Regions from separate parts of the Homo sapiens genome. Here regions 1, 3, 4, 5 and 6 are each reported to be linked to region 2. The links are microRNA targets in miRTarBase. Many come from high-throughput screens and were not tested one by one. Region 2 holds a microRNA gene; each other region holds the end of a gene's coding sequence.

Evidence for each region. The annotated mature microRNA hsa-miR-4716-3p reads AAGGGGGAAGGAAACAUGGAGA and lies in region 2 at 1,976-1,997, shown strand. An mRNA with a match to its seed (bases 2 to 7 or 8) in the 3' UTR can be bound and repressed. Matches are read on the target gene's strand: a 7mer-m8 pairs with bases 2 to 8, a 7mer-A1 pairs with bases 2 to 7 and ends in A, and an 8mer does both.
Region 1: miRTarBase lists MAT1A as a target of hsa-miR-4716-3p. Seed matches in the 3' UTR shown: 7mer-m8 at 4,213-4,219.
Region 3: miRTarBase lists REEP3 as a target of hsa-miR-4716-3p. Seed matches in the 3' UTR shown: 7mer-m8 at 1,297-1,303.
Region 4: the mRNA of EVI5L is a reported target of hsa-miR-4716-3p. Seed matches in the 3' UTR shown: 8mer at 1,344-1,351, 7mer-A1 at 1,485-1,491 and 7mer-A1 at 1,921-1,927.
Region 5: the mRNA of NEUROD2 is a reported target of hsa-miR-4716-3p. Seed matches in the 3' UTR shown: 7mer-m8 at 3,871-3,877, 7mer-m8 at 3,809-3,815 and 7mer-m8 at 3,227-3,233.
Region 6: miRTarBase lists GP5 as a target of hsa-miR-4716-3p. Seed matches in the 3' UTR shown: 7mer-m8 at 1,059-1,065.

Annotation. Positions count from the first base shown.
Region 1 is chr10:80,269,234-80,274,305 of GRCh38, forward strand. It overlaps MAT1A (methionine adenosyltransferase 1A), which reads right to left. Exons shown (of 9, transcript NM_000429.3): 9 at 2,587-4,650. The coding sequence ends at 4,548. Among named protein-coding and RNA genes, the nearest start is that of MAT1A, 18 kb to the right of the region's middle. RefSeq lists an enhancer at 3,705-4,904.
Region 2 is chr15:49,166,004-49,171,075 of GRCh38, reverse strand. MIR4716 (microRNA 4716) reads left to right here and starts at 1,923; the gene lies at 1,923-2,006. GALK2 (galactokinase 2) reads right to left here and starts at 829. Exons shown (of 10, transcript NM_002044.4): 1 at 701-829. The coding sequence starts at 753. RefSeq lists enhancers at 642-881, 513-1,417.
Region 3 is chr10:63,619,960-63,625,031 of GRCh38, reverse strand. It overlaps REEP3 (receptor accessory protein 3), which reads right to left. Exons shown (of 8, transcript NM_001001330.3): 8 at 1-4,219. The coding sequence ends at 4,163. LOC105378329 (a long non-coding RNA gene) reads left to right here. Exons shown (of 4, transcript XR_001747467.3): 1 at 1-213. Among named protein-coding and RNA genes, the nearest start is that of REEP3, 100 kb to the right of the region's middle.
Region 4 is chr19:7,862,965-7,868,036 of GRCh38, forward strand. EVI5L (ecotropic viral integration site 5 like) reads left to right here. Exons shown (of 20, transcript NM_001159944.3): 18 at 8-103; 19 at 221-316; 20 at 460-2,012. The coding sequence ends at 738. Among named protein-coding and RNA genes, the nearest start is that of PRR36, 8.9 kb to the right of the region's middle. RefSeq lists an enhancer at 793-1,501 and a silencer at 3,499-3,793.
Region 5 is chr17:39,601,246-39,606,317 of GRCh38, forward strand. It overlaps NEUROD2 (neuronal differentiation 2), which reads right to left. Exons shown (of 2, transcript NM_006160.4): 2 at 2,523-5,072. The coding sequence ends at 4,206. Among named protein-coding and RNA genes, the nearest start is that of NEUROD2, 4.1 kb to the right of the region's middle.
Region 6 is chr3:194,392,438-194,397,504 of GRCh38, reverse strand. GP5 (glycoprotein V platelet) reads left to right here. Exons shown (of 2, transcript NM_004488.2): 2 at 1-2,684. The coding sequence ends at 905. Among named protein-coding and RNA genes, the nearest start is that of GP5, 4.3 kb to the left of the region's middle. RefSeq lists a silencer at 289-338.

The sequences.
Region 1 (5,072 bases), not on the chromosome of region 2:
TGAATCCACTGAGCCAGTGCACACCTTAAAATAAATACCCTCCTATATTCACCCATACTGGTCTCTCTAGTCCTCTGTGACCTGTAACGGTATAAATCCTTATAGTCACAGTGCTATGCTCTTAACAGGTGCTTTAAAAAAACAGCTCTGTGGAATGATTGACATTTACATCTCTGAGCAGCTGAGCCTGGCAAGACCTACCAAAGGGCAAGCAGGATCCTTATATCTTGCAGAATATCTTGCTAAGGAGAGCTCAGGAGGCAGAACAGATGGACACACCTCAAATTCATTCTCTGATATGACCCGTGCTACACCAAGCACCTACTCTGTGCCAAGCCCTGCATTGAAGGCAAGTATGAGACAGCAGACAAGGCCAGATGACCTTGGAAAGCCCCAAGTCCTATGGGGGCAACAGGTATAAATAAACAAGCATTGACATCCATAAAGAATTCCAACCTTTGAGAGTAACTGTGTGTGATGATGTGTTCATAATTTTGATTGTGGAAATTATTACACAGTATATACATATAGCAAATCACATTATATACCTTGAATACATACAATTTTTATTTGTCAATTATACCTTAATGAAGCTGGGGAAAAAAGCTTTCTTATTTGGGTTGATACATCATCTTCAGAGTGTGAGCAATAGAATTATTGCCATAACATTATTATTAATAATTAATGAAAATATTTAGTTATTTAAAGAACTACAACCTTTGAGAGCCCGGTACCAGATGGAGACAGCATTGGGTGTGATTTATGGAAGGTGCTTGGGAGCATCTTCCTGGGAGATTGGGAGCATCATGGAGGGTGGCTTGTCAGCTGAGACTGCAGGGATTTGGAGGACCCGCATGTGAAGAAGGAAGGGAGAGTGAATGGGTAGGGAAGGATTCAAGTGAAAGGCTCCAAGGAACATCATGTTAAACACTGAAAAAGAAACTAGAAATGGAATGGAGTAGAAAGAGAGGCTATCAAGGAAGGGGTTTTTTGGAAATACAGAAATTTCATCTGAAACCTGCAGCGCACCCCACACCCATGACAGAACGACAGGTGCAAAGACCCTGAGCAGGAACGAGCTTGGCCTGCTGGGGGAAGCCAAAGAGCCAAGGAGTCCGGAATGTGGGGAGTGGGGAGCAGAGTCCAGGATGAGGGTAGGGGGCAGGCACTGCACAGACATGCAGGGCAGTGCAGCCCAGCACGCACTCTGAATGTCATGAGATGGCCCAGGGGAGGATGATTGAGGTGAGGGTTGGGGTCATATTTACGTTTAAATGTGACTCTGCCATTTCCCACATCATCAACCTCCATGTGGCTGAATTCACTGGACAGTCCTGGGCCTCCCATCATGTAACCCATCAAAACCATTTTGCATAGTTGGTGGCTCCCCTGCTCTAGAAACAGTCTTCACCTGACTTCCAGGGACTCTGTGCTCCTGAGTTTCCTCAAACTCCACTGGCCGCTCCCTGCCAACCTCCTTTGCTCCGTCCACATTTCCCTAACACTGTGACACTTGGCTTTGTGGCTCAGAAGGTGGTTCTCTATCTTGCTTTCACTAATTATTTTGCATGTTATACCTAGAGTCCTCCCCCTACCCCAGGCAAGTATTCCAGTGTGTTTCTTAAGTGTGTCTATTTGTATGCATTCTTGAGAAACGTGCTTTTCTCTGTAATGTGTCATGTTTCATTGTATTGCCCACCTAGTGTCTTCTCAGGGTATAGGTTCTGTCTCAAACAGGACTGTGAGGCCCTTTGGCCTCATCCTCCCCTCCCCTCCCCGCCACATTCTGGGTCTTCCTGGCACCCCAGATCAGCTTTGTCTGCCCGTGAGACACGGGGGCCACACAGGCTTTGCCTCAGGCTGCACCAGGACATTCCCCAGAGCTGAGTCCTGTCCACACAGCCTGCTTGCCGGAAACCATGCAGGACCCATCTTCCTCCTGCTCTGATCAAACCCCAAGAACCACATCACCGGGGGCCATGGCAGGGATGACCTTCAATGAAAAAGAACCATTTGCTTATTCTCTTCACAACTGAACACGAGTGAAGGGAAATGTGCATCCACTTAAAAGTTCGGCTCCTCTCTCCACAGACCAATCCCCTCCACTCCTTCACTTTGTTCAAATTCAGTCACTTATCCATACTCCAGACATGGCCTGAGCATGCCCTCATGCCAGTCTCATGCAGACACCATGCAGGAAGGGCACAAGATAAGGCATAGGCAGCCTAAGGGCAGCAATGCGTAAGGAGAGCACACAGAACTCAGGGAGGAGCCAGAGGTGGCCACTGCCTTTGGTCCTAACCCTTTTTGGGGCCTCAGGGCCCCGCATGTAAAAATGGGCTTCCTAAGAATATCCACCTTGGTGAGATGTGGTGAGGAATGAACATGGCAGTGGTGTGGCTTAACATAGCTGCTAGTAACAAGAAAAACCTAGTCCATGAGACATCTGCTCCACGTGGACAGGATGGGGTGACCCCGAGGGGAGGATACTAACTTCCCCCGGTGGTGGGGGTGGGCAACCAGGGAATGCTATACAGAGCAGGTGTCATGTCTCTGGGGTTTTGCAGAGAATAACTAAGCATAGGGTAGTTGCTCCTTGAGTTTTTATTCATTGTTTTAGCAGGAACTATTAACAAATAAAGGCTTTAGTTTCATACAAACAAACTGACAAAAAAGATCTTATTTCTCTAGAGGGTAGGGAAAGTATAAAATTCTGAATTTTCATGTCGAGTGTGAGCCAAGTTAGAGGAACTTGGCCACCTGCAAACCACTCCCTCCCTCCATGGGAAGGAATCTGAGGCTTCCTAGGTGACCAGGAGCCGGGCTTCTTTTGTTGCCTTAATTTCCTTTCACCTGAGAGAAAATGAAAGCCAGGGTCTTTGTGCTCCAGGCCAAGGCCCAGATGCTGGCTGCCTGCTCCCCAGATGAGACTTCCTGGGCTGCCTCTCCCAGCACCATGTACCCTAGAGAGAGGCCAAGTCCCCAGTGTTCCCCTGGGGCCCATGGAGGCCCCTGCCTGAGCCTGTGGTCCTGGGAGCTGGGGAGAAGGTAGAGATGCTGCTGTCAGAGGTCCAGGCTAAGGACAAGTGGGGCAGGTAGGGCAGGTGCTGCTGGCCATGGATGGAAAGGCAGGCAAGTTCCAAGACCTTAGCAGGCCAAGGACTGCTCAGGCCCCTTGGGAGCAGACCCGCTCCCCAGACAGTCACCTGGCAAAGGCAGAATCTCCTCATGACGTCTCAGAAGCTTGTCCAACACCAGAAGGCAAGCCCCGCCTATTTAACATGAGGCCATAGGACCAGCCTCCCTGGATCCGAAAGGGCCACTCACTCCCTCCAAATGCACTCAGCCTGCAGGGGATACAAGGGACCAGGGAAAGAGAAAGACTTGAGGGCCTCTGTCTAAGGGGCTGGCCATCTGTGCTAGGACAAGTTGCTGCTTCTGCTCCAGGAAGCCCAGATAGGACTGGACTGGACTTAGACCACTTACCCCAGAAGTCCAAAAACCCAATCTCTGCATGTCTCTGAGTGGTCAGGGGGCTGGGATTCTAAAGCTGCTGGTCAGTCCCTAACTCCAGCCTACCCTGATGGGCCAGGTAAGCCAACTCACCCTCAGTCATCTTCTGGGACACATGAAGCAAACAAAATAGCCCTGTGGTTCTGTCTTCACTTTTCAGACAATTGCCCACGGCTCAACAAGAGCTAGTGGGTTAATCCCCTAATTTCCAGTAACCTCAGGCCTTCAGGACAGAGTCCATGGCCTCATTTCTGAATCTGCTTTGTCATTGTTTGAGCCTGTTACTGGCATGAGACAACGGTGGGGGAGGGGGTATGTCACAGGCTCCTGAGTCAAAGCTCCTAGTTATACATCTAGGTCTAAACACGTGGCTGTGGGACCCTGTGGAAGTTATCCAGACTCTCTGTGCTTTGCTTTCCCCCATCTATAAATGGGATATAAAAGGTACTACCTCATCATGTTGCAGTGAAGAAAAAACGAGATCAGTTATTAGCTGGGTCCCTCGCACATTACAGGTGCTTAGGAGACATCAGTCCTGCTCTAACCCCTGCCACATGCCTGGCCTGGGTGGGGCTTTCTGGAGACCCTGGCTCAGGGCACTGGCTGCCTGTGAAAGGGGGGTCCAGGAGCCCAGGCCCACAAGGAGCCCTGAGGCCTGTTGAGATGTGCTGACCTCACCTGGCACAGGCAAGGGGAGGGAGGGGGAGCTGGTCAGGGTCCAGCTGTTGGGGGAGACGAGTGAGGGAATTCACTCTTGACGGGGGTGCCTTTTCCACTAAATTAACATTGCCCCAGTCTGAGGGAGCAGCAGGAGAACACCATGCCCATCCTTACATCAAGATCCAACCTCCAGCACCAGGAAGCCCCTGCCTCCAGCTGGCCATGATGATGACAGGACAGGCTAAATGAGAGGGACCTGGCTTTGCCCTGAGGGTTGGTGGGTGGGGAAGGCGATCAGCAGCCAGGCGTCTGGGGAAGAGGAGCATGGCCACCAGGTGCCTCCAGGGTGAGACCAGGCCCAGCTCCCCCTGGCTCTAAAATACAAGCTTCCTGGGAACCTCCCATGGGAACTCGCTTCTTCCGAAATGGCCGTAGCATGCTGTCTTCTGGTAGATGGGCTTCTTCAAGTCCAAATCCCTGCATGTCCAGCAGAAAGGAAGGGCATTGGAAGATGGAACAGGAGCAGGGTTTCTTTCTCCATTTCAAGGACAGGAGGGAGCAACGAACTGTAACACAGCCCTCCTCGCATGGCACTACGCCTCCCCACCGCAGTTGCGCGCACCCATCCTATCTGTGCCATACCCTGGTCTCGTTTTATAGCCCCACGGATGCTTAGAGGTTCAGGGACCAGGATCTAACTCCAGCCTTCCGGTGCTTTTCTCCTCCCACTCCACTTACCTGGCCCAGGCCAATGTTGACACCACTAAGCTCTAGAAACGGAATAGACTTGCTGACTTGATTCCCAGCCATTTGAGCTATTTGGCCTTATATTAATAATTATTTTCCTAAGATCCCCGCCTGCCTCCCAGTTGCTCAGAGATGGCCCCACTGGAGTTGGT
Region 2 (5,072 bases):
AAAAAGAAAAAAGAAAGGAAGGAAGAAAGAAAAGAAAAGAAAAACAGCAAAAGCAGAGAGTCAGGAAAGCCCTTCGCTAATGTAGCAGGTGACAGACTTCATTTTATGAGACCTCAGCCCCATTAGTCAGAACGAAGTATTTCTACAAAGTACCTGTAACTGAAAAGATCCTCCCCGAGACATCACTAAACTATTAGTTACTGTGTAGCTAGGGACTGCCAGCAAATTAATTCCCTAAGTGACAGTTCAGAGATTCTCGTGTTTTTGTTTTGTTTTGTTTTAAAGAGGATGCAGACACCAAGAAGGTTTTTGTGTTTGTTTTCAATTAATATTTAGAAAGAAGACTTTTAAAAAGCAGTATCAACTGGCATGCGAGACAAAGAGAGGAGTTCAGTGTGGATATGGGCATTTCTGCTGAAGCCCAGTAGAAAGAGTACACTAATTACAACAAGAAAAGGAAAAGAAGAATCTGCATGGATGAAGAAAAAAACATACAACCCTTCGTAGTAGTCAAGGTAGAATGTGTTTGCGGCGTGATCTTTTTTGCAAGCCCAGCCACGTGTCCTTATAGAATCCCAAGGGTTCCACTTGCTCCCCGGGACCAAAAGCAGCGCCCCAAGGGAGGAGCCAAGTGCTGTGGACCCGATCTACACGTAGCCAACCCAGCAGATCCCAAAGCCCGGCGTCTCCTCTCCCCCACCTAGGATGTTCTGCCACCTGGACCCGACGCGTAGCAGGGCTCTCTGTAGCCATATTTCGCTAGATCCTTCTTTCTCCTGTAGTTTCAAGTGTCTAAGCAAAGCTCCCAGAGCAATCACGAGACTTCTGTGACAGGAGCCGTTTTCTTCCGGGAGATAAACAGCTCCCGCCCTGCGGAAATCCTGCAGCTTCGCTGAGGTGGCTGCTTCCAATCGGCCCCTCCTCTGGCTCCTCCTCCCTGGACTCAGCCAGGGTTCCCTCCAAGCAGCAGTCAGGTACAGCCTCCGTCCTGCTCTTAGCTCCCAGGGAGGGACTAGGGCCTCGCAGGAGCCCCTGCGCAGAGCACGTGCGAAGCTGACTAGTGAGGTTTTCTTTTTGCGCCCTGTGGATGTCAGAGAACAGTGTCATAACCTGGCGCCCTACATACACCTAGTTTCTGATCTGTCTCGGGCTGCGTTTTTTTGTTTGTTTGTTTGTTTTTTAGTTATGGTTTTGGTCTTTATTGTTCAGCAGCTACTCCCCAAACAACACTAAAATGTTTAGCTATTGCTTCTTTGCGGATTACTTCCAAATCAAGCAACATAAAATTGATGTATCACTTGATTTAAATAGATTTGCATTTATTTACAGGTTAGAGGCATTGGTGGGCCTTCCTAGAACACAGTAGTGAAAAGACGGAAACACATGCCTTTTAATGTGCAAGACCCCTTAGCATCCAGTTAAACCTCTTCATTTTTCACTTATCTAGAGAAATCCTAGATGCCCTATCAAAAGTACACTATCCCTAGTACATCACTAACTTTTCCTTCCTTCATAGTTCTCCTATTTGCTTATGTATTTATTGTGTCTCTCACCACCTCCATCATCACTACCACTAGAAAGCAACTGGGGGCAGGCAGATTGGTTTTTAATGAATAGGTAAGATAAACTGAATGAACGACGAAAGGTGAAATGATGTGCCTGAGGTCACAGTGATCATTGGGAACAAAACTGGAATTAAAATTCAGATCTATTAACTCTCAATCTAGTGCACTTTGCACCTCAGAAATATTGAGATTAAACCCAAGCAAAGACAGCTAGCAATAAACCCATTCCAAAGTTTCCTGATTAAGGAAGTTTGAGCCAACATGCCCAACACACTAGGGGTAGTAGCATAACTCAGAGAGATTCGATAAGTTGTATACATCAGTAAGTTACTGCTCCAGAATTTCTATATGTATATGCATACTTTGTCTCCATGTTTCCTTCCCCCTTCTGTATACATGTATACAGGAGGAAGGGGGAAGGAAACATGGAGACAAAGTGTGAATGGACAATAAAGCATAGCCAAAGAGTGGCAGCCCCTTGGCACCCCGTTGGGTTATTACTGTAAATGATACATCAAAGAAACAAAGTTACTCTGGTCTCAGGGCAGCTTTCTCACTATTATTTCAGTCCCTCTTTATCATTTTCAAATGAATGAATTATATCTTCTTGTTTCTGGGCCCCAATAAATCCCAGTTTGATGTTCATTTTGGTTTAATTTTGAGTAACAGGAGTCATCACTGTCACTTGTAAATAGTTTTAATAGGGAGATAACCTAAATTTTAAAAAAAAATGTAAAATGTTTAGGGACATCAGTAAATACAGAAAAGAACAGAATCTTTTTTTTTTTTTTTAGATGGAGTTTCGCTCTTTGTTGCCCAGGCTGGAGTGCAATGGCATGATCTCTGTTCACTACAACCTCCACCTCCCAGGTTCAAACGATTCTCCCGTCTCAGCCTCCCAAGTAGCTGGGAATACAGGCAGCCGCCACCACACCAGCTAATTTTTGTATTTTTAGTAAAGACGGGGTTTCACCATGCTGGGCAGGCTGGTCTCGAGCTCCTGACCTCAGGTGATCAGCCCACCTCGGCCTTCCAAAATTCTGGGATTAAAGGTGTGAGCCACCGTGCCCAGCCCAGAATCATTTTTTATTCAGATGTTTCTAATATATTCTTTTGCATTAGTTGAAAAATAACAAATTTTAAAGTTTTGAATTTTTTTAACAGTCCAAAATAAACTCATTTTATACAGGGTTAAAAAAAAATGACTGTAGAAACTGTTTCGAAAAAGAATACTTCCTACTGAATATGTACTTGATGACCGAACATTAACTTTGCTAAATGAAACCAGATGGCAAATCATTAGTTTGGACCTTGGATACATTGCTATTGCAGTCTCAACAAAACCGATGCAGACTAGAAAGCACCTTACAGAGCAATTAGTAAAGCATCCTTTTTTGAAATGATTGGCACAAAGTAAAACAGGATTAACAGAGCTAGAACTAAAACCTAGGTCTCTAGACTCCTAGCCTAGAGGCCATACTACTTCTGAATATGTGACTTTTGTTGAGACCCCAGTAAACTGTGCTTAAAAATAAATTATTGAAATGATTAGAATCCTTGTCCCAAAATAAAATGTGTACATTATAATTTTCATAAAGGATTACTCTTAAAATAACCTGTCCAAACTACTAGAGAACCCCAAATGGACACCAAAAACAAAACATTACTTTCTTATACTACCTTCCTTATACTAGGCATCTTGCTAAGTAAGCACTTTGCGTATATTATTGTCTCTTTAAACCTTTCCAACAATCCTTATGGGATAGAAAAATATTATTTCCTTTTCAATTTCAAGAAGATATTCCTTTAGTTCTTATTAGACATATCTAATAGTGAAAACATTTAAACATTTGGCTGGGCACAGTGGCTCATGCCTATAATCCCAGCACTTTGGGAGGCCAAGGTGGGCAGATCACCTGAGGTCAGGAGTTCGAGAACGGCCTGGCCAACATGGTGAAACCCCATCTCTACTAAAACTACAAAAATATAGCCAGGTGTGGTGGCGGGCGCCTGTAATCCCAGCAGCTTGGGAGGCTGAGGCGGGAGAATCGCTTGAACCCAGGAGATGGAGATTGAGTAAGCCAAAATCACGCCACTGCACTCCAGCCTGGGCAACCAAGAGCGAAACTCCATCTCAAAAAAAAAGAAAAGAAAATATTTAAACATTTATATTTTACAGTATTTTTATTTTCACAAATCCTGAACCTCTGGTTCTTTGCTTTTTGCAAGTAGGCACTCTTACAATAGGTTTAGAATCTGAATTATAAACTAATAAATGGTATATTATGATGGAGTCTTAAACAGAAACCTAATTAATAAACTTGAAATTGTTTCTCCTCAAAGGATATTAGTCTCCATTCAGATAAAATATTATAGCAAACTAAACAAAAACAAAACAAACACTAAAATGAAAGAATACAAAAACTTGATCCAAAATATGAGTTAAAGCATGGGTGTTAGAGACTTACAGACCTGGCTAGTGCCTATTGATGTTTCTCAGCTTAGAAATCACTTCCTTCAGGAAGTTTTCCATGTTCTCTACCCAAAACTAAATGTCTAAGACCACAGAGGGATTGACCATTTATCTGAAATAATGTTATTTCTGTGGTTTAATCTGTTTGTGCAACCTCTGGAAAATATTTCCTATTTTGACTTACAATAAAAACTATTGTTCACAATTGGGAGAATCTACTTCAGTGACCTATTTTGGATATTTTCTCATTATAGTAAATAATATGTAATACTTGTTTATGTCTTCTTTATAATGATGTTACATTCCTTCTTTTTTGTTGTTGTTGTTGAGACCAAGTCTCGCTCTTGTTGCCCAGGCTGGAGTGCAATGGCGCGATCTCGGCTCACTGCAACCTCCGCCTTCCGGGTTCAAGTGATTCTCCTGCCTCAGCCTCCCGAGTAGCTGGGATTACAGGTGCCTGCCACTTAATTTTTGTATTTTTAGTAGAGATGGGGTTTCAACATGTTGGCCAGGCTGGTCTCAAACTCCTGAACTGAGGCCATCCACCTGCCTCGGCCTCCCAAAGTGCTGAGATTACAGGCGTGAGCTACTGCACCCGGCCCCTTATTCTTCTGTTCATAAAATAGATACTGCTCTCTAGTGTATATAATCATTAAATGGCAAAAGATAAACTCATGAATCAGAGAAATCTATATTTATGTAGTTATGGAGGAAATAAAAATTGTGCAAAAATGCTTTAACCGAACATAGATTGTTTTGCAGAGTGAAAAACAAAGCAAAACAAAACGAAGACTCTAAGCACCCTCTGCTTGCCCAGTCATACAAAGCATCACATCAGTACTCTAATTACTTGTTTTCTGTCTAGTCTAAGTTTTTCTACTCAAAGTGTGGTCCTCAGAACAGCAGCATCAGCGTCACTTGAAAGTTTTTAGAAATACATTATCTTGGGCCGGGCGCAGTGTAATTCCAGCACTTTGGGAGGCCGAGGCGGGCAGATCACAAGGTCGGGAGATCGAGACCATCCTGGCTAACAC
Region 3 (5,072 bases), not on the chromosome of region 2:
CTATCTAGAAAGACCTTAACACGCATTATGTGTCATAATGAAGTAACACAAAGAAACTTCTTAAAACATAGGATTTCTCTCTAAAGCTTAAATGTGAGGCAGACAGACGTCTAACTTTAAAACAGATGGAACCCCAGAACATTTCCAGGATACATAAATCTGAATTTTGTGTTACATTTTATGCCTGAGACAGCTAACCCATCCAAATTGATGGTGAGGATTTCTGTACTCATTGTTTTTCCTATCTTTCCTTTCTAACATCCAAATTTAACAATTCAGTATTTCTTTTTCATAATCCTATGGATGACCATACCAGAATGTTTATGATTTTCATAATTTGCTCTGTGATCTGTAATCCTAAGTGTGTGCATATATTTAATCAACACATAATAATAAGTAATACCAATTCATGGAATCCAACATATGTACTCTGGCATAAAAAAAGAAACGCGAATTGCCACAAATAAAATGAGTTTATTTTATATTAAAGTTATCAAAAAACACACCTGTAAAATTACCCACATACTAGGCTTAGAGATAGCCTTTTACAAACAGATTATTAAAAATCTGCAAACTTATTTTCTCTTAACTATTAAAGTACATAGATTTAAAAGGTGTTAGAAGGCAAAATGTTAAGTCATGGTCAATGTCTTAAAAAAGAGTTAATATAATTAAATCTGTAGCATACTACAAAAAGATTAAATCTTAAAAATATTTTGGGAAAAAAGCTATAATTTTCTTTCTGAAAAATTTAATCTTAAGTGATATTTACTAAGAAATATATACTGCAAACCACAATAACAATGATCTTCTCAAAATTTGCCTAATTGCTTCACAAATGAGTCAACTTACAAAGAAGAAAACACAGAAAATTGCTTTTAAATATATAACTCCTTAATTTTCCTGATAATCAAATGAAAATTTAGTCCATCCCAATTAATACAAATTAGACTCATGCTTAATGTAAGATATCATTATATATTTCTTAACAACATAAAAGTTCAAGCATTTTTGGAAAGCACAGACTGTGTTATTCTAAAAAAGGAAAAAAAAGAAAAAAATATTTAACCACAGAAATTTGGAATATTTATATACTTTATAACACTGTAGAAATCTTTGGTGGTGACATATGGAATAAGATCCCTGAAAATACTTTAATCATTTTGTCCCATCAATCAGTGTAGTCAAGTATTTATAATCAGTAATTTTGGCAGTATAATTTTTTAGCCAAATACACACACACACACACACACACACACACACACACACACACACATATATATTGTGAAGTATGTGAGGGGGATCTTATGCAGGACCTAGGTGGGCTTACATAATTAATTATTTAGCAATAAGGCTTATTTCTGGCTCCTTTTTATACCAGGAAAAAATATGGTAAACTAACGAATGGGTCAATTCTTACTCCTAAACAAACTCTGGAAATAGTTAAATACTAATGGACAAGTTGAGTAAATGTACAGCAAAATAAAATACCAGCTGCAATTTCTGTATAAACTCAAACATCTACCAAAATAGTTCCCTAAATAGGTTTGTGCATCTAATCCCGTGCTCCATGTGCTGGCAGAGGAAAAAGCAAGGCACTGTGGTCTATGGATACATTTACCTCTTTTAAAACCAGTAGACTTAAAAGGAGAAACAAAAAAAGATCTGTTCTACCTTAAAAGAAACAAAAATGTACAGGCTAATTAGACAAAGTTCAAAGAAAAGGGCCCCGCTAAAACACATGTACAGGAAAAGAACCAAAATTTAAGAAATGTAGAAGAGAAAGAAGAGTAAAATGATATCAACAGTGTATAATGATGTAAGGAAAGATATCAGAGGAAGCACTGTGAATGTGAAAAAGTGCAGTTAAACAGGACTTGTACTACCTCTTTGAGACTATCTTTGATAAAGAATTTTGAGTCTAGAAGTACAGAGTAATAAATAATTTCTTCAATTTAGAACAGTAATATGAGTTTACTAAAGAATAGGTTTAATACTGGGACCAGACTTTAGAGAGATAAAATGGTGGCTGGGTGCGGTGGCTCACGCCTGTAATCCCAGAAGTTTGGGAGGCCGAGGCGGGCGGATCACGAGGTCAAGAGATGGAGACCATCCTGGGCAACATGGTTAAACCCTGTCTCTACTAAAAAGACAAAAATTAGCTGGGCGTGGTAGCACGGGCCTGTAGACCCAGTTACTCGGGAGGCCGAGGCAGGAGAATCGCTCGAACCCGGGAGGCAGAGGTTGTAGTGAGCCGAGATCGCGCCACTGCACTCCAGCCTGGTGACAGAGCAAGACTCCGTCTCAAAAAAAAAAAAAAAAAAAAGGTAAAATGGTGCAAATCAGCTCCCACAGATAAAGTTCTTGACTCACATGACCTTATTAGGCAACTTCAGATGATACTGTCTTTGAGTAGGAAAGACAAGGACAGTGTAACAGTTATATTAAGAAGTCTAGTACCAGGTCATATAAATAAAACTCTGTTCCGATAATTTACAATTAGAATTCATAGAAATTTGGAATAGAAATTAGAGTCCTTCCAGAAATTAAGAGGCTAAAAATTAGGGTAAAGTAGATAGAGTTATTCAGAATTAAACGTTGGGAGAAGAAAACTGAATTAATTTTACTTGTTATATATGAAGAATGTGAAATAATCCATAAAATATTTTATGACTAGTATCATGAGACAATGTATGCATTATACCAAGGTACTCCTGTGTAAACATTATGTTCTTGGCCAATACTCTGAGGAAGTCCTGAATATACATTACCAGCTGGCTTCATTTCTTAAAAGGGAGACAGATCAAAGACCTCTCGAATCTCTCTCATCATTTTATCTTTTGGACAAACAAATAGAACAGTCAAGTAAATTACCTGAACAAGCATAATAAGTACAAATTTGATTACTGATCACTAAAACCACCAAAAATATATTGACTTAGGGTTCATAATGCATAGTTATCAGTTCAAGCTAAGAAAGCCTTAAGAATTCAATAACTCAAAATCTCTTTGAGATTTAAAGTTAAAAAGTAATATGTTTCTAATAATTTCTAATGTGCAGGATTAATGACAACTGTATTTTGCATTGGCAAATTATCTCAGCCAGAAGAGATTCAAATGATTTTCGTCAATGCCAGTTTATAAACTAGCAGCACATGTCAATGCCAAGCTTGTGAATGGATTGGCTGAGAAAAATTATATGAGTTAGAAGGGATCTAAGTGCTATACTGGTCACTGATTCTATTTCACAAAAGCTACCATTTTTAAAAGCTGAAAATGTAATTGGTGTTGACAAAAACATGTTAAGTTCAATTACTCTGTATAGCTAAATATAGAAAATTGGTTAATGTTTAAAGCAACTTCTTATTTGTTAAGAAGATAATTAAAAATAGTTAAAACTGAACAATTAGCTATACTTTTATATTATTAAAATCCAATGAATTTAACAAATGAAACCCACAGGAAAAGAGATGATATAATTCAAGGCATAGATTTGACATGTCAGAATACGGCAAAAACAATAAAGATAGCATCAGTAAAACAGTTGTAAAATAAGTAAACAATTTTCAAGTGTGCAAAACTAGTCAGGAATAAAAGTGCTATGTGTGGATACCTGGTTTTCAAATATTTGTTTCAAAAACTTTCAGCTGATGGTGGAAAAACTAGAAAGTATTATATAAGTAAAAATTTAAAGAATATATAAAACCTACTTTATTATCTTACATTATGTCCTTGTTATGTCACTGCTGAATCTGAGGCCTATTTAATTACCAGATACAACACAAAAGGAGGTAAACACAGTACATCACAAAGGCTGATTTATCCTGAACCGTAAAAAGGCTCCTTTCAAGTATACTGTGGATTTGTGTTTCATCTTATATCTCAGGCACTCTAGGCTGTTGATGAATTTGAAAACGGACAACATGATTTTCTATAATTTCTAATATACATATTTAGTACATCTTGCAGAACTGCCTTTAGTAGTCAATATTTGGAAGCAATTGTTACAGAAATAAAAACAATTTAAATTCATGAAAGTAAACCCCATCACTGCCACAATTTAAATAATCATTTTAATGTGTAAATCCTGAATATATCATGTTAGAAGATGAAGTCGATGTATTTAGCATAATCTGTCTTGGGATATTTGACGTGTAGATGACTAAAAATACACTTGTGGTCGTTTCTTCACTTTGTATTTTAGTGACCCGTACCGCACCTGAAGAGAGAAATGTTTTATTATTAAGAATTAGATGATTACTTTAAAAAATTACATCAGATTTAATAGTTCATAATCATAGTAATTTTTTTACCTTTTTGATATAAAGAATGAATTCTCTTAATAAATGTATATAAGACAGCACTACTTATAAACTCATAAAAAATGTAGTTGGTAATATTTAGATATATGTTACAGATTATTACTAATAACATAAAAACATTAATCCTATTATTTATGTTTTGCTTAGTACAATGTCAATGAACATTGATTATAATGATCAGAGGCCATTCACAGTCCTCCACTGCTTTCTGGGTATAAAGACAATATGTTATTATGGTTAACTGTTTACTATTTAATCTTCATGTAGCATTAGTTGAAAGCAAAACTGTGTGGTTAATTTTATTCATTGCTTTCTTTGTTTATGCATAGGGCTGGGACTGGGTATTTGAACTATGTGATTTGCTAAATGAGAATGCCATTTTCTACGTATAGCAGAAGATTAAGAGTTTACCATTTTCAAAATTTCCTGATATCCTGATACATTGATCTGAATAAAGAATTTTAAATATAAACTGCTGGCCAGGTGAGGTGGCTCACGCCTGGAATCCCAGCACTTCGAGAGGCGGAGGCGAGAGGATTGCTTGAGGCCAGGTGTTCAAGACCAGCCTGGGCAACATGGTGAAACCCTGTCTCTACAAAAAATGAAAAAATTAGCCAGGTGCGGTGGCATGTGCCTGTAGTTCCAGCTACTTGGGAGATTGAGGTGGGAGGACTGCTTGAGCCCAGGAGTTTGAGTGAACTGTGATTACGCCACACTGCACTCCAATTTGGTTGACAAAGCAAAAAAGCT
Region 4 (5,072 bases), not on the chromosome of region 2:
ACCCCAGAGCAAGGAGGAGGTGATGGCTGTGCGACTGCGGGAGGCGGACAGCATGGCTGCGGTGGCCGAGATGCGGCAGCGCATTGCCGAGCTGGAGATCCAGGTGATCGGCGGGGCCGGGGTCGGGGGGCGGGGGCGGGGGCAGGGCCCGGGGCAGGAGCGGGGCCGGACCCCAGGCCCAGCATGGCACTGGCCCCGCGTGACCTGGCGCACCCCGCAGAGGGAGGAAGGCCGCATCCAGGGCCAGCTGAACCACTCGGACTCATCGCAGTACATCCGCGAGCTCAAGGACCAGATCGAGGAGCTGAAGGCCGAGGTGAGCCGGCGCGGGGATGCCGGGGACAGGCCTGGGTGTCGTCGGCCTGGGACGAGCCGAGCGCAGGTGCCTTGCGGAGGATGCGGCTGGGAGGGCGGGGCAGAAGGCCGGTCCACGCCTGCAGCGCCGGTCCCCCGCCCCAGGTGCGGCTGCTGAAGGGCCCGCCGCCCTTCGAGGACCCGCTGGCTTTCGATGGGCTGAGCCTGGCGCGGCACTTGGACGAGGACTCGCTGCCGTCGTCGGACGAGGAGCTACTTGGCGTAGGCGTGGGCGCTGCCCTGCAGGACGCATTGTACCCTCTGTCCCCGCGCGATGCGCGCTTCTTCCGCCGTCTGGAGCGGCCGGCCAAGGACAGCGAGGGCAGCTCAGACAGCGACGCCGATGAGCTGGCCGCGCCCTACAGCCAGGGTCTGGACAACTGAGGCCATGCCCAGCGCGCCCGGAGTCAGGAGGCCGCAGCCGCGGGGGGCGCCCGGGCAGTCCGCGTTCTGCTCCCCACCTGCCGCACTTGACAAACTACGCGCCCTCTGTGGCTCGGCCACCCCTAAAGCGAGGCCCGGCGAGGCAGCGCAGAGGGTAGGGTCCGACCTGGGCTCCTCAGGGCCCCGGGGCAGGCTCTCTATCCCCAGCAGTGTTTACCCATCTTGGTCTGTACCCCTCCGGGCCCTCTGGCGTTCCAGGGGTGCCTGGAGGGGCTGACTGCTCTCTTAACAGGAGGGCAGAGGGCAGGGGACAGACGACCCAGAGGTCCCAGCACTGAATGAGCAGGCAGCTCCCACCTCCTGGCAGGCTTCCTTCTGGGACAGGGGCGACATTGCTGGGAAGTGCTCAGGAGGTAGCCGAGGCCTGAGGAAGGAGAGCGCCAGCTCTGGGCTGGACATCAGCACCCCACAACACTCCTCGGGATGAAGTGACCCTTGACTAGCCCCTGGCCATCTCTAGGGGAGTCAGGCCGCTGGGGACAGATGGCCAGGCCGGCCTCTCCTGCCTGGCGCAGGCACCGTGGCCCCTGCAGCGGAAACCAAAGTCCCCCTACTATGTGCGGGGCGCCTGGGGACTGAGTGGCTAACGGGAAGCCTCCCTGCTTCTCTGGGGCCAGAGCAGCTTCCAGGAAGTGAAGAGACCCCTCTCCCCAGTGCCCCACATCTTTCTCTGGGAGACACTCGCGCCCCCTATCCTGGCCAGTGATGGAGGGGTATCTCTACAGGGGTCCTCGGTCTCCATCTACTTCCCTTTCTTCATGTGTTTCCAGCCCCACCCTCAGCCAGAGCCAGGCCCCCAGGCAGGAGCTTCCCAGCGAGCGGCCTCCCCTCACTTCCTCCTGGTGGTCCCGTTGTCTCTGCTGAATCAGAGCTGAGAACGGTGCCAAAATCCAACGATGCCCCCCAGGCCCCTTCCTCCCTTCCCCCGGCCCCCCGGGCCTCATGACCCTGGGGGCTGCCCCCCTCGGTGCTCCCGGAGCCTCCAGTAGAGTAGCGTCACAAGCAATCTCCCTGGCGCTTCCTGGGTGGGGACCCCTGCTCCGTCCCCGCTTCCTAGCTGCCCACTTTTCAGTGTTACGAAGCCTGGGGACCGGGGCAGGCACCCACGGGGCTCTCCACACGCCCCCTACACTGCCCGCCACCATTTTGCACACTGCCTGTTCACATGTCGCCCAGGCGGGAAAAATGGAAAATAAAGTGTATTTACACAGTCACGGACTGGCCTGCGGGCTGGGAGGAGAATCACAAGCAGCGGTGGGTGCCCAGCCCAGGGACCAAAAACCGTGCTGAGGGAAGGTGGGGCTGTCCTTGCCCTTAGGAGCTCCCCACAGTCTCATAGAATGGGGGTGGGAGAGGATAGAAGGGCATTCAGTTTGGGGGCAGGGCATGATTTCCCACCTGGGTGAATCAACTTGGGCCTCCCCTGAAGGAGAGAGGCATGCCGAATCGCTGGGCTTCAGGAAGCACAGGACCCGGTTGCATTCATTCTGCTCACGCCTCCAGGGGTAATGTGGGGTACTCTGCCCTGTGCCTGGCTCTGAGGGGGTCTCCAGTGGAGCAGAGGAGACAGGCACTGGGCAGGGGGAAGCCTGCACTAATGTGGTAGGTGCTCAATAGACAAATGTGCAGGGAGATCAGGGAAGGCTTCCTGGGGGAGGTGGTGTCAGGGCCTCTTCGAGGGGTAAAAGCATAAAGATCAGACCAACAGGAGGCATACCATACCTAGGAAGGAAGAACAGGAAAGCCTGGGCGTGGTCAGACTAAGAAGGGACTGCTTACGTCAGGTGAGGGAGTTTGGGCTTTGAACTGGGGGCCATTGGGAGCCCATGGAGGGCTTAGGTAAGAGAGCCCCATCAGATGGACCACAGAGTCTGTGAGGGGGCCAGTGCAGGGAGGACAGTGAGTAGGGGGCAGAAATAGTCCTTTGTGGGGTTCCCCACAGAGCTGAGGCAGAGTCCCAGCTGCTGGGTGGCGGTGGGTGGCGGGGTGGAGGACAGAGCCAGGAGTGGCAAAGCAAAGCTTCCTAGAGGAACTCAAGGCAGTCGACTCACTGAAACGTCCATCTCCTGGGTTCCAGTGATTCCCCTGCCTCAGCCTCGAGAGTAGCTGAAACTGTAGGCACCTACGACCGTGCCTGGCTAATTTGTTTCGTTTTGTTTTTTGAGAGGGAGTCTCACTCTGTCACCCAGGCTGGAGTGCAGTGGCACGATCTCGGCTAACTGCAACCTCTGCCTGCTGGTTTCAAGTGATTCTCCTGCCTCAGCCTCCTGAGTAGCTGGGACTACCGGCGCCTGCCACCACATCTGGCTAATTTTTTTTTTTTTAGACGGAGTTTCACTCTTGTTGCCCAGGCTGGAGTGCGATGGTGCGATTTTGGCTCACTGCAACCTCTGCCTCCCAGGTTCAAGCAATTCTCCTGCTTCACCCTCCCAAGTAGCTGGGATTACAGACATGTGCCACCACACCTGGCTAATTTTGTATTATTTTTAGTAAAGATGGGGTTTCACCATGTTGGCCAGGATAGTTTTGAACCCCTGACCTCAGGTGATCCACCCGCCTCCCAAAGTGCTGGGATTACAGGCATGAGCCACTGTGCCCGGCCCAATTTTTGTATTTTTTTTTTTAAGTAGAGACTGGGTTTCACCATATTGGCCAGGCTGGTCTCAAACTCCTGACCTCAGGTGATCTGCCCTCCTCGGCCTCCCAAAGTGCTGGGATTACAGGCGGGAGACACGGTGCGCAGCCCCTAGAGGCAGAAACATAATTGGGTTCAGGCAGATGCTAGCCAGGACCTGCCCTCTGCACCCAGTGTGGGTCCACAAAGTGCTCCCTACCCCCATGCCTCACAGCCAAGCAAAGGACATGACACTGCTTGTGTACTGAGACAGCCAAGTCCCATGTACTGTCGTATCACATGCCACAGCTCTCCTGGCCACACATGGTGCAGATGTAACCCTGGGGACCCTCACAGTCACTGTCCGTGCCTCCTGCTTCCATGGTAATTCCACCCCCGCTGGCTGCCCAGGTCAGGGCAGGACCGCAGAGGAATTGTCTGAGGTTCTGCCCTGTCCTTCCCGGCAGCTGGCCTTGAGCCCCAGCTCCCCAGCATGTCAGGAGTCGGCCTTGGGCTTGTCCCAGAGTCTGGAAACAAAGACACCCAGGTCCCCAACCCCACCAGGGCCCAGCTTGAGAGGACACCTCTATGGTTTGCCACAAAACTCTGACCGAAGGACTGTGCTGGCGTCCTCCTCCTCCACCTCCCAGGGGTGCAGGTGGCAGTGCCCCTCCAGGCCAGAGCCCATTTCTCCTCAGACCCCAGGCTAGGAGGTGCCTTGTCTGGGATGGGGACAGGCAGGACTTGCTGGTCTGTGACTGACAGGAACCTGGTCACAGGATGGTGTGAGGGTACTGGGTCCAGGGGCAGAGGCAGGGCTGAGGGCCCAAGGCCAGATCCTACTCTGTCTTCTTACCCACTTGGGGATGTCACCATCATTCTTGGTGCCATGCAGGAGACCCGGGGGAGGAAAGGCCTAGCAGGGGAGCTCTCTGCAGGGGCACTGGGAACAGGGAGAGACTGGCTAGGGTTTGAGAGGCTCCAGAGCTGGGGGTTAGGGTTAGGGTTCATTGGGGGAGGAAGGGCAGGAAACTCTGATTGGAGGGGGCCTGTGAAGATGTTTGGGAATCTGATAAGGACGCCTGAGGAAGGGGTTAGGGCAAGGATGCCATGGGGGTGGGATGCACCAAGTGGCACTTGTGTAAGGACACTTGGAGACAGGGTGCAGTGTGAGGACTCCCCCATCTCCCACCTAGACCTGGGAGAGGCCACTTCTTCCTGCAATCCCCTACCAGGGCAGTTGGCCCGGGACCCTGCACCAGCCGAAGGGCCATGGGAAGGGGTCCCCCATCCTTGCCTCAGTGCCCTCCAATCTTCCCACCTGTTCCCCAGGAGTGCTAGTTCCCCGCATCGAGTTTGAAAAGTGTGTCAGGCCAGGCGCGGTGGCTCACGCCTGTAATCCCAGGACTTTGGGAGGCTGAGGGCAGATCACCTGAGGTCAGGAGTTCAAGACTAGCCTAGCCAACATGGTGAAACCGTGTCTCTACTAAAAATACAAAAATTAGCCGGGTGTGGTGGCGCGCACCTGTAATCCCAGCTACTCGAAAGACTGAGGCAGGAGAATTGCTTGAACCCGGGAGGCAGAGGTTGCAGTGAGCCGAGATAGCACTATTGCACTCCAGCCTGTGCAAAGAGAGCAAAATTCTGTCTCAAAATAATA
Region 5 (5,072 bases), not on the chromosome of region 2:
TTGAGCTGAGCCGGCTGGTGGACGCTTGGAGAGCCTGCCGCTGAGGCTAGGGCAAGAAGGGCGTCCTCTCTGTGCCTTCTCCCCAGGCCAGGCACAGCGCTGGCCCCTTTCCTCCTCCCTCCCCTGCTTCTGTTCTTGGAGCATCTCTGGGTGTGTGTGCGCAGGCGGGAGAGCAAGCAAGAGAAAGAGACCTGCGAGGGGACGTTTGGGGCCGCTTGTCCGCGCACATCTTCTTCTCCTGCTCATCACACCATCTCGCCAGGGAAGTTGAGCACTGGGGAGGAGGGTGATGAGAGGCTAGAGCCAGCCAGAGTGCAGGGAATGTGGGGGGAAGGGTCAGAAATCGGGAAAGGGGCGACTGGTGTGGATGCCGGGATTCACCAGAAGCTGAGTCACTCGGGGGGATTTCTGTCCCAAAAGGGACCTGTGCACCCCCACCCAATGTGATCACAGCTCACAGAGGCCCAAAAGTCATCAGCATCTTTCTAAAAGGGCTGGAATCTGGCTTCAAAAACAGAATTGAGCCACGTAGGGTAGCTGAAGAACAATGCATAGAAAGAAGTCTGTGGTCTGGCCAGGAGAGCCACATGGAGGGGTCCTTTGCTTCAGGCCCCAAGCCACCTGGATCCCGCCCAGCTCTGGACTTCTGAGCGGGTTCTAGGAAACTGACTGAGTAGGGGAGAAGCCCAATTAACCTTGTTCTCAGGGCAGGATAAGAATCAGGCCTCGGGATAAGTGCCAAGTTCCTTTTCTCTGCAATTGCCCCTGCCAGGCCTTGCTCCACGCCATGAGTGCAGATCAGACTTTTGCAGGTTAGGATCTGGGGTATGTGCCTTGCTCTACACTCCCTGCAATAAGTGAGGGGGAAGGAAGATGGGCCAACTCCTTTCTTCCATGAATAGGAGTGATTCAGAGGTTTCTAAGATGCTGAAGACAGGGACACATCCGGGGGATGAAGGCCCTAGTCTGTGATCTCACTCTAGAGAGGCGATGCCGGGAGAATTCCAGAGAAGGCAGTGAAATTTTGAAAGAATGCTGGTAAATGTTCTGAAAACTGCTGGAGAATTCCAGTGCAGCATTGGAAAGGGCCTCCTGCTCCATGTTCCCCTGGGTCAGGCAAATGGACCTCCCTCTGCAGCCAGAAGAAAAGACACTAGACGAGGGTCAGCATGCCACAGTGGACAGCTCCTGGCCTTGGCGCCTCTGCCGACAGCTGTCCTGACCACCGGGAGGGTATTCTTTCTACTGGGGGACAGAAGAGGTTTGAGGACAGACATTTAGGGGATGCAATGAGCTCAAGTTCAGAGTATAATTTGATCCACCCTTCAATATATAGGACTTCCTTCTTCAACAATCTTTCCCTTTCCTGCTTGTCAGGGAGATATTATTTTGGGTTCTTGGACCCAATCTTTAAAAGCCTTTGCATGCCTGACCTTAATCCTCAACCCCAACACTACAAACCCCACTTCAGCCCTAAAATGAGTCACAGTGTTTGGAGAAATCATTTAAATGAGCAGCATCAGAAACAGCCTCTTTGGGGGACTCCTAAATGTGTTCAGGCTTTAGGATGGGAGTCTTTGGGGCTCAGAACCCTCTTCAAATATTCTAGGGCTACAGCATGCACTGAGGGCTGAGCAGGGGGAGTAGGAGGGACTCTATCAGGGAAGTCAGTTAAGAGCTGCCCCTGCCTCTCAGGTTCAGAGAAAAAAGAATTGTGAGGCCACATTGTCTGAGCAGGAGATGCTCACCCAGTGCCCTTCCTCCCTTCTAAGCCCTTAGGGTTCCCTCTGTTCAGAACTGTACCAGACAGGAAGAAATCAGCCCAGATTTGGACTGGGTGGGCGCCTGCTGCCCTGTCCCAGGGAGTACATGGTTAGGCTCCTCTCTACTGGGTGGGCGCCCAGACTCAGCCACCTCACAGACCTCTAGGGGTGTTCCTCCAACCTTGTCCACACCCCTAAACATGTCAACATTCCTGAGACCAAAATGGCCGATTCCCCTGAGTCCACCGAAATACAATTTTAAGATGAAAAAGGGGCCTCCCTCATTAATATTTCATCTTCATGACCTTATAATGTTTTGTTTTGTTTTGTTTTGTTTTGTTTAAAAATACCCCTGTCTGATTCAAATGGTTGTCTCTTTGTCTCTGCCCACTTGCTTTTTGCAACAGTGGGCAGAGAGTTGTAAAATGACTGGCTGTTCCCAACTTGATCATTTTTCAGTGATGAAAAGGTATTTTGTTTTCAAGGGAGGTGCCTGTGCATGTTCAGGAATGAAGAAGTGTAAGGATATCAGTGCTTTAGTGCTGGGAAGGTGCGAGCCTGGGTTGGGTCTGGGAGGGGTAGCTAGTATAGCCCAGTGGGTGTATGGGGGGTGGTTAGGGAGAGAATACTACCCAAGAATGTCCAGGGTCCCTCTGTTTGGCCTCTGCACAGTCACTTGACACTCTGCCTTCATCACCCCAGCCCCAGCTCAAACCTTCTCTCCCCCCTCAATGAAATGAGGCCACCGTGAGAAACCGGTCCGGCTTTGCATCTCATTTACATAAATATTTATTAATCGTCATTAAACTGAACAGAAACACGCAATGCACTTCGGGTGTCCGACGGGAGTTTCATCTTCGCTACAAGAGGAAGGTAAAATTGCGTGTGTGTGGGTGAGTGTGTGGGTGTGTCGCCTGTGGGATTGCATTTTTGCATCGTGTATTTGGATGCCTGATCCCCTGCCTCCGGTGGGCAGAGGGTCTCCTTTTGCCCCTTTTTGGGGGAACCTCCAGTAGGAGCCCTCAGACCTCTCCCCGCCCACCCACCAGCTAAAGCCAAGAGGACTCCTTGGACCAAAAAATACTCTCTCCAGACACCGGAAATCGCCAGGTGGCACCCACCGAGGCACAGTCCGGGCAGGGGTGGGGCTGCCCCCAGGTCTCCATCCCCACCCCTCACCCCAGGAGGGGACAGAATGGCCGCGGGGAGGAGGAGCCGGCGAGCTCACCTCCTTCTGCCCCCCGGACGCCGGCGCCGGGCCTGCTTGTGCGTGCGGTGTGGTGTGCGTGTGTCTTTCATGCAAACCCTCCCTCCCCAAACCGACCCCCCAACAGTTTGCCATTCCATACAAATTTGGAAACAGGTTTTTAAAAAACAGCATGACGCACAACGGGGACGGGGCGGGGGAGGGCAGTGGCACTGGGGCCCCAAATCTCCGAGTCACTGATTGTAAGAACCTGGGGAGGGGGAGGGGGCGGCGCGGGCCCCCACTTCACCAAAGTGCACAGATCCGCGCTCGGGCGGGGCGGCCCGCAGGCCGGGCGGGGCATCCCGGGGCCGGGCCGGGCCGCGAGGCTCAGTGGAGCCTCCTTGCATAGATATTTGTGTCTTTGATTATTGGTAGTAGTGGTTTTTTTTTGTTTGTTTTTTTGTTTTTTGTTTTTTTTGCCTTTTATTGCTTCTAAAAGTCCTTACTGCGTTTTCTCTCCGATCCGGACTCTGCGTTCGGCTTCCGTCGCCTCTTAGCTTTTTTTTTTTTTTTTTTTTTTTTTTTTTTTTTTTTTTTTGTATGTTTGTTTGTTTAAAAAAAGGAAAAGGGAAAAACGGATTCTAGTTACAAATTGTCTTGGCCTCTCTCTTTCCTCTCAATCCACTTCCCCTCCCGCCAAAATTAAAATCGCAAAACGCGGAGACTGGAGGTTGGGGGTGAGGGCGTTCCAGGCCCGGGCTCCGGCGCCCTAACTTCTACCCTCTTCAAGAAAGAGGGAGCGCCTGGCTCCTTTTTGCCTCGGCAGCTGGGTGTCTGTTTTTAAAATAATAATGAGAGGGGGAAACGCGTTCCATTGCTCAGCTGCCCCCTTACCAACGCCTTGGGCCTGCAGGGAGGAGGGGGAGGAGGAAACCTCAGCGAAGATATTGGGAATGGGGGAGGGGTGCCTCCAGGGAGCCCCCGGAGAGAGGTCCCTGGAGAAGCACTCCTTGGGAGAGAGGAGGAGGGAACCCCTTGGGGAGAGAGAAGGCGAGTCCCCTGGGGGAAGCGAGGCCCCTGGGACAGGCCACCCACAGGTAACAGGACTGCGCTGCCCCAGGAGAGCGGCAGGACCGGTGGCCCGCTCCCCGCGCCCGGCGCCGGGGTAGGATGGGGGTGTCCCTGCGCTCTGGGGGCTGGGGACAGGGGGGCGGGCAAAGGCAAAAGAAAAAGAAGGGAGCCGGCGCGAAGTCTCAGTTATGAAAAAACGCATTGAGCTCCTCGTACATGGGGCCCCGGTCGTGGTGAAGGTGCATATCGTAAGACAAGAGATTCTCCGAGTGGACGCCCCCGCGCACAGCCGACGAGCCGAAGACTAGCCCGTGGCCCGTGGGCCGCGAACCGGGCAGCGCCGAGTAGTGCATAGAGTAGTGGTAGCTTTTCTCGTGGTCGGGCGAGGAGTCCTGCTTGAGTGAGAAGTTGCCATTGAGACAGAGCGGGGGGCTGAGCGGGCCCTCGTACTCGGAGCTGTTGTAGTCCGGGCTCGCGCCGCCACCGCCTGCCGCCGCATACAGCGTCTCGTAGGCGGCGCAGTAGCCGTGGGTCCGCAGGGCGTGCGCCGCGCCGCCGCCCAGGCCGCCGGCCGCCTGGCACTGTGCGCCCGCCAGGCGCGAGCACGGGTACGGGTAGGGGTGCATGGCGAACGGGCCGCCCGAGCCGTGGAAGCGGCCGGCACCGTCGGCGCCTTGCTCCGTGAGGAAGTTGCGAGAGTTGAGCTGCAGACAGCCGGCCACCAGATTGGTGGTGGGCTGCGACAGACCCTTGCACAGAGTCTGCACGTAGGACACTAGGTCTGGCCGCTTGCCGGAGCGCAGGATCTCCGAGAGCGCCCAGATATAGTTCTTGGCTAGGCGCAGCGTCTCGATCTTGGACAGCTTCTGCGTCTTGGAGTAGCAGGGCACCACCTTGCGCAGGTTGTCCAGGGCTGCGTTCAGGTCGTGCATGCGGTTGCGCTCCCGCGCGTTCGCCTTCTGCCGCCGAAGCTTGGAGCGCTCCAAGCGCGCCTTGGTCATCTTGCGCTTCTTGGGCCCGCGCTTCTTGGGCCGCTCGCCCTCCGCCTC
Region 6 (5,067 bases), not on the chromosome of region 2:
CGCTCTTTCTTCATTCGCACAATCTGACTCTGTTGACTCTGTTCGAGAACCCGCTGGCAGAGCTCCCGGGGGTGCTCTTCGGGGAGATGGGGGGCCTGCAGGAGCTGTGGCTGAACCGCACCCAGCTGCGCACCCTGCCCGCCGCCGCCTTCCGCAACCTGAGCCGCCTGCGGTACTTAGGGGTGACTCTGAGCCCGCGGCTGAGCGCGCTTCCGCAGGGCGCCTTCCAGGGCCTTGGCGAGCTCCAGGTGCTCGCCCTGCACTCCAACGGCCTGACCGCCCTCCCCGACGGCTTGCTGCGCGGCCTCGGCAAGCTGCGCCAGGTGTCCCTGCGCCGCAACAGGCTGCGCGCCCTGCCCCGTGCCCTCTTCCGCAATCTCAGCAGCCTGGAGAGCGTCCAGCTCGACCACAACCAGCTGGAGACCCTGCCTGGCGACGTGTTTGGGGCTCTGCCCCGGCTGACGGAGGTCCTGTTGGGGCACAACTCCTGGCGCTGCGACTGTGGCCTGGGGCCCTTCCTGGGGTGGCTGCGGCAGCACCTAGGCCTCGTGGGCGGGGAAGAGCCCCCACGGTGCGCAGGCCCTGGGGCGCACGCCGGCCTGCCGCTCTGGGCCCTGCCGGGGGGTGACGCGGAGTGCCCGGGCCCCCGGGGCCCGCCTCCCCGCCCCGCTGCGGACAGCTCCTCGGAAGCCCCTGTCCACCCAGCCTTGGCTCCCAACAGCTCAGAACCCTGGGTGTGGGCCCAGCCGGTGACCACGGGCAAAGGTCAAGATCATAGTCCGTTCTGGGGGTTTTATTTTCTGCTTTTAGCTGTTCAGGCCATGATCACCGTGATCATCGTGTTTGCTATGATTAAAATTGGCCAACTCTTTCGAAAATTAATCAGAGAGAGAGCCCTTGGGTAAACCAATGGGAAAATCTTCTAATTACTTAGAACCTGACCAGATGTGGCTCGGAGGGGAATCCAGACCCGCTGCTGTCTTGCTCTCCCTCCCCTCCCCACTCCTCCTCTCTTCTTCCTCTTCTCTCTCACTGCCACGCCTTCCTTTCCCTCCTCCTCCCCCTCTCCGCTCTGTGCTCTTCATTCTCACAGGCCCGCAACCCCTCCTCTCTGTGTCCCCCGCCCGTTCCTGGAAACTGAGCTTGACGTTTGTAAACTGTGGTTGCCTGCCTTCCCCAGCTCCCACGCGGGTGTGCGCTGACACTGCCGGGGGCGCTGGACTGTGTTGGACCCATCCGTGCTCCGCTGTGCCTGGCTTGGCGTCTGGTGGAGAGAGGGGCCTCTTCAGTGTCTACTGAGTAAGGGGACAGCTCCAGGCCGGGGCCTGTCTCCTGCACAGAGTAAGCCGGTAAATGTTTGTGAAATCAATGCGTGGATAAAGGAACACATGCCATCCAAGTGATGATGGCTTTTCCTGGAGGGAAAGGATAGGCTGTTGCTCTATCTAATTTTTTGTTTTTGTTTTTGGACAGTCTAGCTCTGTGGCCCAGGCTGGCGTGCAGTGGGCCGTCTCAGTTCACTGCAGCCTCCGCCTCCCAGGTTCAAGTGATTCTCATGCCTCAGCGTTCTGAGTAGCTGGGATTAGAGGCGTGTGCCACTACACCCGGCTAATTTTTGTACTTTTTAAAGTAGAGACGGGGCTTTGCCATATTGGCCTGGCTGATCTCAAACTCCTGGTCTTGAACTCCTGGCCACAAGTGATCTGCCCGCCTTGGCCTCCCAAAGTGCTGGGATTACAGGCGTAAGCCACTACACCTGGCCCTCTTCATCGAATTTTATTTGAGAAGTAGAGCTCTTGCCATTTTTTCCCTTGCTCCATTTTTCTCACTTTATGTCTCTCTGACCTATGGGCTACTTGGGAGAGCACTGGACTCCATTCATGCATGAGCATTTTCAGGATAAGCGACTTCTGTGAGGCTGAGAGAGGAAGAAAACACGGAGCCTTCCCTCCAGGTGCCCAGTGTAGGTCCAGCGTGTTTCCTGAGCCTCCTGTGAGTTTCCACTTGCTTTACATCCATGCAACATGTCATTTTGAAACTGGATTGATTTGCATTTCCTGGAACTCTGCCACCTCATTTCACAAGCATTTATGGAGCAGTTAACATGTGACTGGTATTCATGAATATAATGATAAGCTTGATTCTAGTTCAGCTGCTGTCACAGTCTCATTTGTTCTTCCAACTGAAAGCCGTAAAACCTTTGTTGCTTTAATTGAATGTCTGTGCTTATGAGAGGCAGTGGTTAAAACAGGGGCTGGCGAGTTGACAACTGTGGGTTCAAATCCCAGCTCTACCACTTACTAACTGCATGGGACTTTGGGTAAGACACCTGCTTACATTCTCTAAGCCTTGGTTTCCTGAACCTTAAAACAGGATAACATAGTACCTGCTTCGTAGAGTTTTTGTGAGAATTAAAGGCAATAAAGCATATAATGACTTAGCCCAGCGGCCTGCAGGCAATACATGTTAATGAATGTTAGCTATTATTACTAAAGGATGAGCAATTATTATTGGCATCATGATTTCTAAAGAAGAGCTTTGAGTTGGTATTTTTCTCTGTGTATAAGGGTAAGTCCGAACTTTCTCAGACTGGAGGTTACATTCACATCAGTCTGTCTTCCCCTGCGGATGGCCTCAGCCCTGGGTGGCCAGACTCTGTGCTCACAATCCAGAGCAATGGATCCTCCAACACCACCAGGTGGATGTGGAGCAGGAGAGCTGGATCGTGGCATTTGTTTCTGGGTTCTGCAGCTGTGGGAGTTGGTTTCTGGGTTCTCCATTGGTCTACTTGTCTAGTCCCATACCAGACTCACGGTCTCCATTATTGGAGCTTTAATAATTTTTGGTATAGGGTCATCTCTCCACCTTGTTTTTCTTCTATTCTTGGTTCTTTGCAATTCTATGAATATTTCAGGGTCAGCATGTCAACTCCATTGAAAAACCCTGCTGGGATTTTAATAGAACTTACAGCTCACGCCTGTAATCTCAGCACTTTGGGAGGCTGAGGTGGGTGGATCACAAGGTCAGGAGTTTGAGACCAGCCTGGCCAAGATGGTAAAACCCCGTCTCTACTAAAAATACAAAAATTAGCTGGGTGCGGTGGCAGGTGCCTGTAATCCCAGCTACTTGGGACACTGAGGCAGGAGAATCACTTGAACCCGGGAGGCGGAGGTTGCAGTGAGCCGAGATCGTGCCACTGCACTCTAGCCTGGGCGACAGAGCGAGACTCCATCTCAAAAAAAAAAAAAAAAAATTGCAGTAAATTTAAAACTAATTTGGGGAAGAATCTGTATTTTTTACAATACCTAGTGTTCTTGCCAGTAAGCATGGTTCATCTTCCCATTTATTTACGTCATTTTAAATCTTTCAGTGATGTTTTAGAATTTTTTTTATAAAAACCTTCACTATAAGAACAGAAAACCAAACACCGCATGTTCTCACTCATAGGTGGGAATTGAACAATGAGAACACTTGGACACAGGGCGGGGAACGTCACACGCCTGGACTGTCGGGGGGTGGGGGGCTGGGAGAGGGATAGTGTTAGGAGAAATACCTAATGTAAATGACGAGTTAATGGGTGCAGCCAACCAACCTGGCACATGTATTCATATGTAACAAACCTGCACGTTGTGCACATGTACCCTAGAACTTAAAGTATATAAAAAAAAGAAACCTTGCACTGATTTTGTTAGATTTATTCCTAGGTATCCTTCCTCTTTTTTGATTTGTCATTGCTATTGTAGATGGCATCTTTTTAAAAAGTTATATTTTCTAAAGAAAAAAATAAAAAAAGTTGTATTTTCTAATTTTTATTACCAATATATAAGAATGTAATTTATTTTTACATAATTATCTTATGTCTAGTAATAATTCTGATAATTTGCTTCTTCCTATTAAAACCTTACACCCATTATTGATTTATTTTTCTGTTTTAAAATATCTTCCTGCACTGGCTAAAACCTCCACTATAATGTTGAGCAGAACAGTGAGCATCCTTAGAACTATCTTGGTTGCAAAGGGTAGGTCTCTAATGTTTCATCAATAAATGTGATGTTTCTAGTCTGAGTTTGCTAAGTATATTTTAAAATAATCAGTAAAGTTAGATTTTATCCATTTTTATCTTAACTATTGAGATGCTCATATCATTTTTCTTCTTCAATGTGTTAAAATGGTGAATAAATTTATAGATTTTGGAAAAGTAAATTCATTCTTGCATTCCCGAAGTAAACCAAGCCATGCTATGTGTATTTAAAATATATTGCTGAATTCAGCTTGCTGTTTTGTTTAGAACTTTTACTATCTGTTCATTAGTGAGATTTGCTTATACATTGAAAATAATATCCTTGACTGGTTTTGGTATCAGGTTATACAGCCTCATAAAGTGGGTGGGGACGTTCTCTCTGGAATGGTTCGTAAAAACTGGGATCATCTTTTCCTTGAACGTGTTGTAGAATCCCCTGGAAAACCTTCGTGGCCTGGTTTTATTGTATGTGTGTATTCGGTATTTATTGTTGCATAACCAGTACCCCAGATCTTGGTGGTTTAAAACAATAAAATACATTACGTCACAGTTTCTGAGGGTCAAGAATTTGGGAGTAGTTTAGTTGAGTGGCTGTGGCTCAGGGTCTGTCATGAGGTTGCCATCAAAATCTTGGCTGGGGCTCTAATCATCATGACTGCGGCTGGAGGATTTGCTTCCGACATATCCCGCTCACGCTGTTGGCAGTTCCCTGGTGGCTCACGGCAGGCAGCCTTGGGTCCTTGCCATATGGACCCCTTGAGTGTCCTCATGACATGGCAGCTGGCTTCCCCCTTTCGTTCTTCAAAGAATTGTGGGGTTTTTGGCTTTTTTTTTTATAAGATCTAAAAAAGAAAAAATTAACATTGATCTATATGTTGCTTGAGCTAGAAGGCATAGGAAAACAGACAACATATATCCATGAAATTTCTCCCAAATATGAGGTAAAAAGATGAAATCTTTAGATAAGTTGTAAGTCTGTACAAAGAAGCTAGATTTACTACTCTCTAAAAGGTGAAGGGACCTGCTATATAAAACACAGAAATAAT